Linked DNA regions of Homo sapiens. The protein of the gene in region 2 interacts with the protein of the main gene of each other region in a pairwise test. Each region holds a gene or a part of one and is shown on either strand. Other genes may lie near its edges. The genes, in order: SMAD9 and MAN1C1.

Region 1 (3,812 bases), on a different chromosome or scaffold from region 2:
AGAGCTTGCAGTGAGCCGAGATCGCGCCACTGTACTCCGGCGTGGGGGACACAGCGAGACTCCGTCTCAAAAAAAAAAAAAAATTAAAAACAAGCTCTTTAAACTAAAATTTAACCACCATTGACTCCAGGATCCTCAAATACACTATGTTCAAATGTAGAGATGGAACCATAGTGAATATGAGAAGAGGGAGGGATGAAAACACAGACCACAGAGAATTTGCAGGGCAATGAGACGACTCTGCCTGATACTACCATGGTGGATACACGTCATGATACACTTGTCCAAACCCACAGAATGTACACCACCAAGAGTGAATCTCCCAAATTTCTACTCTGAGTCTGTATCCATACATTTTACACTTAAAAGCCCACTAAATATCATGAGGTGGGGGTTGTGAGTTGACGCCTGTAACATCAATTTCAAATAAGGCTGTTCGCAATCTGGCCTCCCCAGACTACATTCCCAGCCTCATCTCTTTTCACTCCCTTTGCCCATCACTCCTTCCCTCCCTGCCCAGAAGGCCCCTGTGCAGCTCTATCTTTCCTGCTCCTTCTTCAAAACAGAGCTGGAAGCCAACTTCCTGGAAACCTTCCCTGGAGGCCCCCAGGCAACAGCACTGATCAGCTCTCTGCTGCTCCTCTGGGCTTCCACAGCACCTAACATGTGCTAGTCACTCACAACAGCACTTACCACACTTGAATCCCCAGATTTGGTAAGTGTTTTCTCCAGAGATGCCTAGCCTTCTATCAGGCCACAAGCCAAGCCACATTGTGGTCTGTACTACCTACCTAGCATGCAGGAGGCCATCAATAAATGTTGAATGAATGAAAGTAAAATCCAGTTTTATCAATACCATTAACTATTGTATTATTAATATTATTATTACTATTTTGAAAAAGGGTCTTGCTCTGTCACCCAGGATGGAGTGCAGTGGCGTGATCATGGCTCACCGCAGCCTCAACCTGCCAGGCTCAATAGATCCTCCCCCTGCAGCCTCCTGAGTATCTGGGGCTACAGGCACGCCCCACCAAGACCAGCTAAATTTTTAAAATATTTTTCTCATAGAAGGGTTTTCACCATGTTGTCCAGGCTGGTCTCAAACTCCTGGGCTCAAGCAATCTGCCCCCCTTGGTCTCCCAAAGTGCTGGGATTACAGGCATGAACCATTGCACCTGGCCAACTATTGTATCATTAAGCCCCATGTAATTAATTGAAGTTCTAACCTAAAGCCCATTGCTTTACTAACGCAATACAATAAATTTCTTTGAAAGACAGAATTATATAATGCATTCCCTACTTCCTATGCATAGTCTATCTACTTAAGGTAATATTATATAGAGCATAATCTGTCTGAATACTTGTAAAGTATTAAATGACTATAAATCATCTGTTTAATATATATATTTTTAATGATGTGTGGGCAATTTTTAAAATTTTATAGATGTGTGTCTCGAGGAAGGCTGTTTCCCGGCCAAAGGCTGCCTGGGGGGGGGGGGGGCGGGTGGAGTTCATAAACTGATAAAGAATCACAAATAAGCCGTGTTATGAACTGCTGTTCGGGGAAGCTCAATTTATTTTTTATTTTTTATTTTTTGAGACAGAGTTTTGCTCTTGTTTCCCAGGACGGAGTACAATGGCACAATCTCAGCTCACTGCAACCTCTGCCTCCTGGGTTCAAGCGATTCTCCTGCCTCAGCCTCCCCAGTAGCTGGGATTACAGGCATGTGCCACCACACCCAGCTAATTTTGTATTTTTAGTAGAGATGGGGTTTCTCCATGTTGGTCAGGCTGGTCTTGAACTCCCAACCTCAGGTTATCCGCCCACCTCAGCCTCCCGAAGTGCTGGGATTGCAGGTGTGAGCCACCGCACCCAGTCGGGGAAGCTCAGATTTTTATTTGCTAAAGAGAAGCATGAAGCAGTGGAGATGGTGTGTCAACTGCTTAGCTAGGAGTTGTGGCCATTTAAAAGCATGCAAACCACTTGAATTTGTCTTCACTCTTCCAAATACCCCTTTGATTATGTGATTCTTCTGTTCAAACCATTTAATAGTTATCATGACTACGGGTTAAAATTGAATAGTTCTCCTTTGCCTACAGATTAAATCCAAATTCCTTGCCCTTCCTTCCACCTTACCCTACAAAAACCAACCTATTTAGGGAAGAGAAAGGTGGGATCGTTGAAAACCCAACATATTTAGGGAAGTGAAAGGTGGAGTGGTTCAAGTATCAACAATGAAGTGGACACTACCCTAGCAGCTGAATATTTCAAGATAAGACATGGTCCCTTTCCTCTATACTACTATTGAGACAGCAATCTAAACATATTATTATCAGGCAAGTAATAGGTGCACTATTACAACAGTTACTAGAAGAGTGTATTCAAAGTGGTCTGGAGGCCCCTGGCTGGCTAAAAGGGTTGGGTGGGGTTTCCTATAGGACCAGCCATGCAAACTCACTCACCCTTGAACCAGTAAAGGGTAGCAGGGAAAAACAGGAGGAAACTGTACAAAGGCTGGATCCTCCTCCTGACAGACTCAGGAAGTAGTGAAATTCCATGGCCTAGGGATGTTCTCAGCATCTCTAAGTTCTCATAAGGACTTACTGAAAGAATCTCTTCCTGTTTATGTCTTCTATTTTACCTCTACCTTCTAGTTTACCTCCCAAATCCCAAATGAGATCATTCTCATTATCCTTGACAAGACTAACTAAAAATTCACACACAGAAAATACGGAAGTCTAATCAGGAAAAATACAGTCATCCCCAGGTATCTATGGGGGATTCAGTCCAGAATCCCCACAGACACCAAAATCCAAGGATGCTCAAGTCCCTCGTATAAAATGGTATATTTGCATATAACCTACCACATCCTCCCTTATACTTTAAATCATCTTAGCTTACTTATAATACCTACTATACTGTAAATGCTATGTAAATGGTTTTTATATCTTATTTTTTATTTGTGTTATTTTTAATTTTTTCTCCAATATTTTTCATTTGTGGTTGGTTGAATCTGTTGATGCAGAAACTGCTGACTCACAGGGCCAGCTGAATAGAGAAATAAACCCAAATAGATTACAGTTTGGGGAAGTAAGACATCTTACTATTGGAGAAATATTTTAATATTTGCTTTCTTGATCTCTTTCACGCTAACTACACTATGAAATCCTGGAGACTAGGATTTTATTTTTGTCACTTCATTTCGTTGTGTAGTCCCCAGGGCCTGTTCTGGGGCCTCATAGGCAGGGTAGACACAATAGACACAGAGTAAATAATGGTTGAATGAATATCCTATACAAGCCCCATAAATTTACAAGTTCCACCTTCTAAAGTGATTGCTACACCCACAAAATTGCAACACTTTAAAACCCCAAGATATAATCAATACAACTTTAAAAAAATAAAGTGTATTTAGAATATCTTGTAATAAAATTAGATGCAATGACAACAGAAAGCAAGTAAAACTGCCACTCCTTTGAAATAATACCAACTTGTCATTATTTGCAAACACAGCCAACACCTAATGACTGCTTTGTGTAAACATATAGTCAATAAGCTGAAAGGGAAGCATTCATGTCCATAAATGTTTGTCTTTGACAAATATTTTATTCAACTCCTATTCCTAAAAATAAAATTCTACTTCCACTAGAAAACAAAGAATGACTAAATGCATAAACAAGACAAAGAAAACCACATGAGACCTAAAATCTTTTTAGCTTAACACATTTTTCATCTTCCACATTCATTACCACCATTCTTGGCTTCTAATAATCACTTATGTCATTAATAATAATCACCCATATCATCAATC
Region 2 (4,472 bases):
CTCAGCTGTCTATCTATCTCCTTTGTAGCATTTCCTATGACCTGCAGTCACTTCACTTACTTGTCAGTTTCCCTTACCATCGCTTTCTCCCCTCTTGACCCCTTGACTGCAGGGCTTATGACTGTCTCACTCTCAGCGGTGTCCCTGGCCTCTAGCCCAGTGTCTGGTCCGTTGCAGGCACTCACCAAGCATCTGCTGAATGATGGAACAGACGGACACTCAACTGGGGTGGCCAGGAGACGGCAGGGGCGAGACTCTCCTTTGCCTTTTTTGGGCTGTGTGACCTCAGGCAAGTTGCTGCTCCTCCCTGGGCCTCTTCCCAATCTAAACCTGAGTATAAATAAACAACTGCATCTGAAGGGCTGGCCTCATGCTTCTCGAATATATCAGGACCGATTTCAGGGGAGGTAATAGAAGTTGGAATCGTTTACTAAATTATACCTTAAATCAACTGCTGGCTGATTATTATTTCTGATGGTAACATTGCAATGGTTTTTCTAGGAGTCACTGATGTGCAATGAGCCCAATCATATTTCTTATTCAATAAACTCTTTTATTCTAGTCCACAGATTTTTCCATTACAATAATAATGAAAATAGCACTAGTAATTTGTAACACTGAGGCCCAAAGGGAAACCCCTCCTCAAATTATAAGGTAAATGACACAAAGTTGAACATAGGGTCAGTGTTGGGCAAAAAGCATTTAAAATATAGATAACGGGGTCAAGATTTTGTGTGTGTGCAAACACTGGGTTTTGTTTTTCAGGATGACACCATTTTAGAAAGTGCATGATTTTGAAAACTATATGTGTAATTGTGACAAAACTAAACTGTAGAGAAAAGACAAAATCAAGCAAAAACAAAAACCAAGAAACCAAAAGGAAGCAAATCAAATACAAGGGGCGGATATGCAAACCTCCGGTCCTTTGGCCCTGGAATGGCAAGTGAGTGGGCTTCATAGAAATTCTCTGTAGAAAGGAATGTGTGGGCCAGTGTGGCCATGGCCCTGGCCTGACATCGCTGAGTCTCCAAGTCTTGTCTCCTCACAGAGGAAAAGAAGTTGCTTGTCCGACACATCTGCTGGGGGTCTGCCCGAGATGGGGCCTTCGTTCCCAATCCCTTTGAGAACAGTCTCAAATCCTGAAAAGGCAAGGCATCCCTGCGGCGGCCCCAGGGCGGCGGCAGGAGATGGGGTCAGTGTCTGCCCCAGGCTCTGCCGGAGCTGTCTGAGTGGTTCACCGGGAGTGGGTGGGCCTCGGTGTTGAACACCCAGTCTTCCAGGGAGAGCAAGTCATCTTCAGAGAACAGAAGATAGAGATACCTGTGCCCCACGCAGGGCAGGGAAGCAAGACACAGTCTGTCAGTGGCCTGGGGAAGAAGGGTGGGCCTGGGAACAAGTCTCAGGGCCTTTGTGATAGGCCTATGGTCAAGGTCTGGAGCCTTGCAACCCCAAAACTGTGGGCAGCAGGGTGGGGGTGCTAGTCCTGGGGAAGGAGGCTGTGGCTGCAGAGAAAAGCCTTGAGCTTTGGGGTCAGAAGGACTTAGTTTACCCTGGCTCTGCCATCAGCCAGCTTCACCTGCCCGGCCCTGTATGTGAGCCCTTATGGTCCAGATTCTCTGCAGGGGTGCCTGAGGGCTGCTGCAGTCCAGTTGACTCTCACGTGCCCCGCTGCTGCCCACTAAGACTCTATATTCAGAGTACACATTGGGGCACTGAGAAGAACATGGGGTTGTGACTCTAGAACTCCAGCTTCCAGGTTGTGGGTTTTTTCCTCACTGGAAGGAACTGATCATTCTGACCCACCCTAAAGGGTTAAAGCACAAGGGGCTTGCTTTGGGGAACAGTGAGGAAGTGGGATGGCCAACTTCCATGGCATGAAATCGAGGAGGGCACAGCAGCCACACTGCAGAGGCCACAGGAGGGAAAGTCAATGCCAGCAACCAGCACTGACATCATCATCGTTAACCCTATCCCATTTTACACACGAGGACGCGGTTCCCAGAACGGAAGCAACCTGGGGAGATAAGCGAGAAACTGAAGGAACCTGCGGTATCACACGGTGCGTCCCTAGGGAACTTGGATTCTAGCCCAGTCTCACTCTCCGAGAAAGCGGCCTGGCCCAAGGCTCACACCTGGGGTGCAGCCCTCTGGATCCCAAGCCCTTCACCCCTTTTGGGCTCCCGTCCTGTGACCACAGAACCTGACTGTGGAGGGGAGGGACTGCGGACCCCTACCCTCAACCTCCCACCTGTCCATCCCTAGGAAGAGCCCACACTGCTCACTTTAGTGTCTCCGCTAGAAAGAAGCTCTGCTGCTTGTTGTCGTGGTTGGGGGTGCTACTGTACACGTCTTGGATCCCAGAGAAACCGGCTTCTGTCCGACAGTATTTCTCCAAGGCCTGAGGAAGGGGAAGAGGAGGAGGAAAACAGCCTTAACACGGGACAGGAAAGGCCCCTCAAGACTTGTGCATGCCTGGCAGGCTGGAGCTAGAAGAAAGCAGACAGCACCCCCACCCCTTGGCTGGGGACTCCTGGCATTTGTGGGAACAGAAGGTCAAATTATTCTTTCGGGGTTTAGCCACCTGTCCCCAGGCTGGAGGGGCCACACTCCTTCCACCCACACCTCTGAGAGCTCTGGCCCGATGGGCTGCCTGTCCTGAGCTCTTCACCTGGTTTGAACTTAGAGGAAGCTTCTCTTTGTGTTTCAGGGGACTAGGCTGGTCTTACAGATTCACCCACAGTGGTAGGCAGAGGTGAAGAGAAGCCACGGGTGATGGCCATGGGCTGGGATTTGGGGACGGACTTGGTACTCCAGGGATTCTCAGGAGAGATGGCCCCTGGGCTGGAGGCAAGTGAGCCAAGCCATTCATCTTTCTATATAAATGCATTTTTTTTTCTTGAGACAAGGTCTCATTTTGTCGCCCAGGCTGGAGGGCAGTGGGGCGATCAGAGCTCACTCTGCAGCTTCAACCTCTGCAGTTCGAGCAATCCTCTTGCCTCAGCCCCTCAAGCAGCTGGGACTATAGGCGTGCGTCACCATGCCTGGATAATTTTTGTATTTTTCTGTATAGATGGGGTTTTGCCGTGTTGCCTATAGGCTGATAAATACAATTTCTACCCACGGAGGGGGTCTATGGACTGGGCATAGGAGCACAAGACGCTTGGCCTTTGAAGGCCAAGAACAATGGTCCTGGGGAAGCAGGTGGACTTAACAGGGCCAGTAAACCTGAGCATGCCCTGGACCCCGTCTGAGTGCAATGCTCGGAATGGGCACGGGGGTGGTGGGGGAGATAGGGGCAGAGAAGGCTCAGCATCCACCAGGGAACCTGCTGGAATCCCCACACCTGCCTTTGACACCTCCCCCAAGACAGCCATTAAATTTCCACCTAGGTGTGGGGCCGGAGGCTGAGGGCAGGGTAGGCCTCAAGGGCCAGTAGAGACTAGGGTGGGGGGGTCCCTCAGGCTGGGCTGCCTGTGGGAAGAGGAGGGAGGTGGAGGTGAGCTGCCCAGCTTCGAGATCAGGAAAGCGTCTGTTGGGACAGCGGTGGCCGCGTGGTGCCTGCGTGGTGCTCTAGGCAGCTGCCTAGCCTCTGACCCTCTAAGTTTGCTGAGGCCTGGTCCCAGGCCCCAAGGATATGGGCACTCAGAACCCTCTTCACAAGTCTGGCCTGTCCTGTCTCAGGACAACTTTGCCCAGCTGGGGACTCTTGGCTCTGTAACCACCACCTTGACCCTTTGCACTCTGAACTGTGGTCAGAGGTCAACGTGGCTTGGCCTTCCACTCCAGGCCCAAGCCAGGGCACCTAGCACCCAGCCTGTAAATTCTCAGGGGCATCTAGCACCTTGCTGCCCATCCCTGGGGCCCACTCACCAGCACCACCTCCCAGCCCCACTCCCTGTAGATGGGGTTGTGGGTCTGTCGCCACAGGTACATGTAGCTCTCCACCACCTCTGGCCGGAGGATGTAGTAGCTCTCGCTCAGCTGGGTGGCCACGGCCTCTCTGCCGGAGTTAAACCAGAAGGCCTCAGGCCCAAGTTTGGTGTCTGGGGAAACAGCCAAGCAGAGGGCCCAGGTCAGACCTCCCACCTCCTGCTTTTCGGGATCCAGGAGAGATGTCAGTTGCCTTGAACCCGCGGCCAGGGTGATGTCAGGTGTGTGTGGGTGTGGGGTGCCCCTGCCTGGACTGCTGTGTAAGGCTGCACCGGGCAGATGCACAGCTTCCCTCTTGGCCTGGGCTGGACAGAACAAGACCCTCGGGGACTGGAAATGTGAGCAGCTTTGGACTCTGAGAGTCCAAATGAGCTACTCAGCAGTCTGGGTAGGTGAAGGTTTGGGCGGGGTTCCACAACTGTGTACTTTGAGGCAATAGCTCTGCAAGAGGTTAGCCAGACCTCAGCCAAGAGGGTTTCGGGTTTCAACACATCTGGGGAACCGAGGGTTAAACAAAATAAGTCTCCCATCTGCAGGATTTA

Evidence for each region.
Region 1: the proteins of MAN1C1 (region 2) and SMAD9 interact in a two-hybrid assay, tested with the Homo sapiens proteins (one large-scale study listed by BioGRID and IntAct).

Annotation. Positions count from the first base shown.
Region 1 is NC_000013.11:36,910,129-36,913,940, forward strand, and holds part of SMAD9 (mothers against decapentaplegic homolog 9), read right to left. Parts: intron 1-3,812. UniProt on the Homo sapiens protein: Transcriptional modulator activated by BMP (bone morphogenetic proteins) type 1 receptor kinase. SMAD9 is a receptor-regulated SMAD (R-SMAD).
Region 2 is NC_000001.11:25,780,511-25,784,982, reverse strand, and holds the end of MAN1C1 (mannosyl-oligosaccharide 1,2-alpha-mannosidase IC), read right to left. Parts: intron 4,044-4,472; coding exon 3,871-4,043; intron 2,399-3,870; coding exon 2,283-2,398; intron 1,321-2,282; coding exon 1,194-1,320; 3' UTR 1,140-1,193; coding exon of another isoform or gene 1,133-1,139; 3' UTR 533-1,132; downstream 1-532. UniProt on the Homo sapiens protein: Involved in the maturation of Asn-linked oligosaccharides. Trim alpha-1,2-linked mannose residues from Man(9)GlcNAc(2) to produce first Man(8)GlcNAc(2) then Man(6)GlcNAc and a small amount of Man(5)GlcNAc.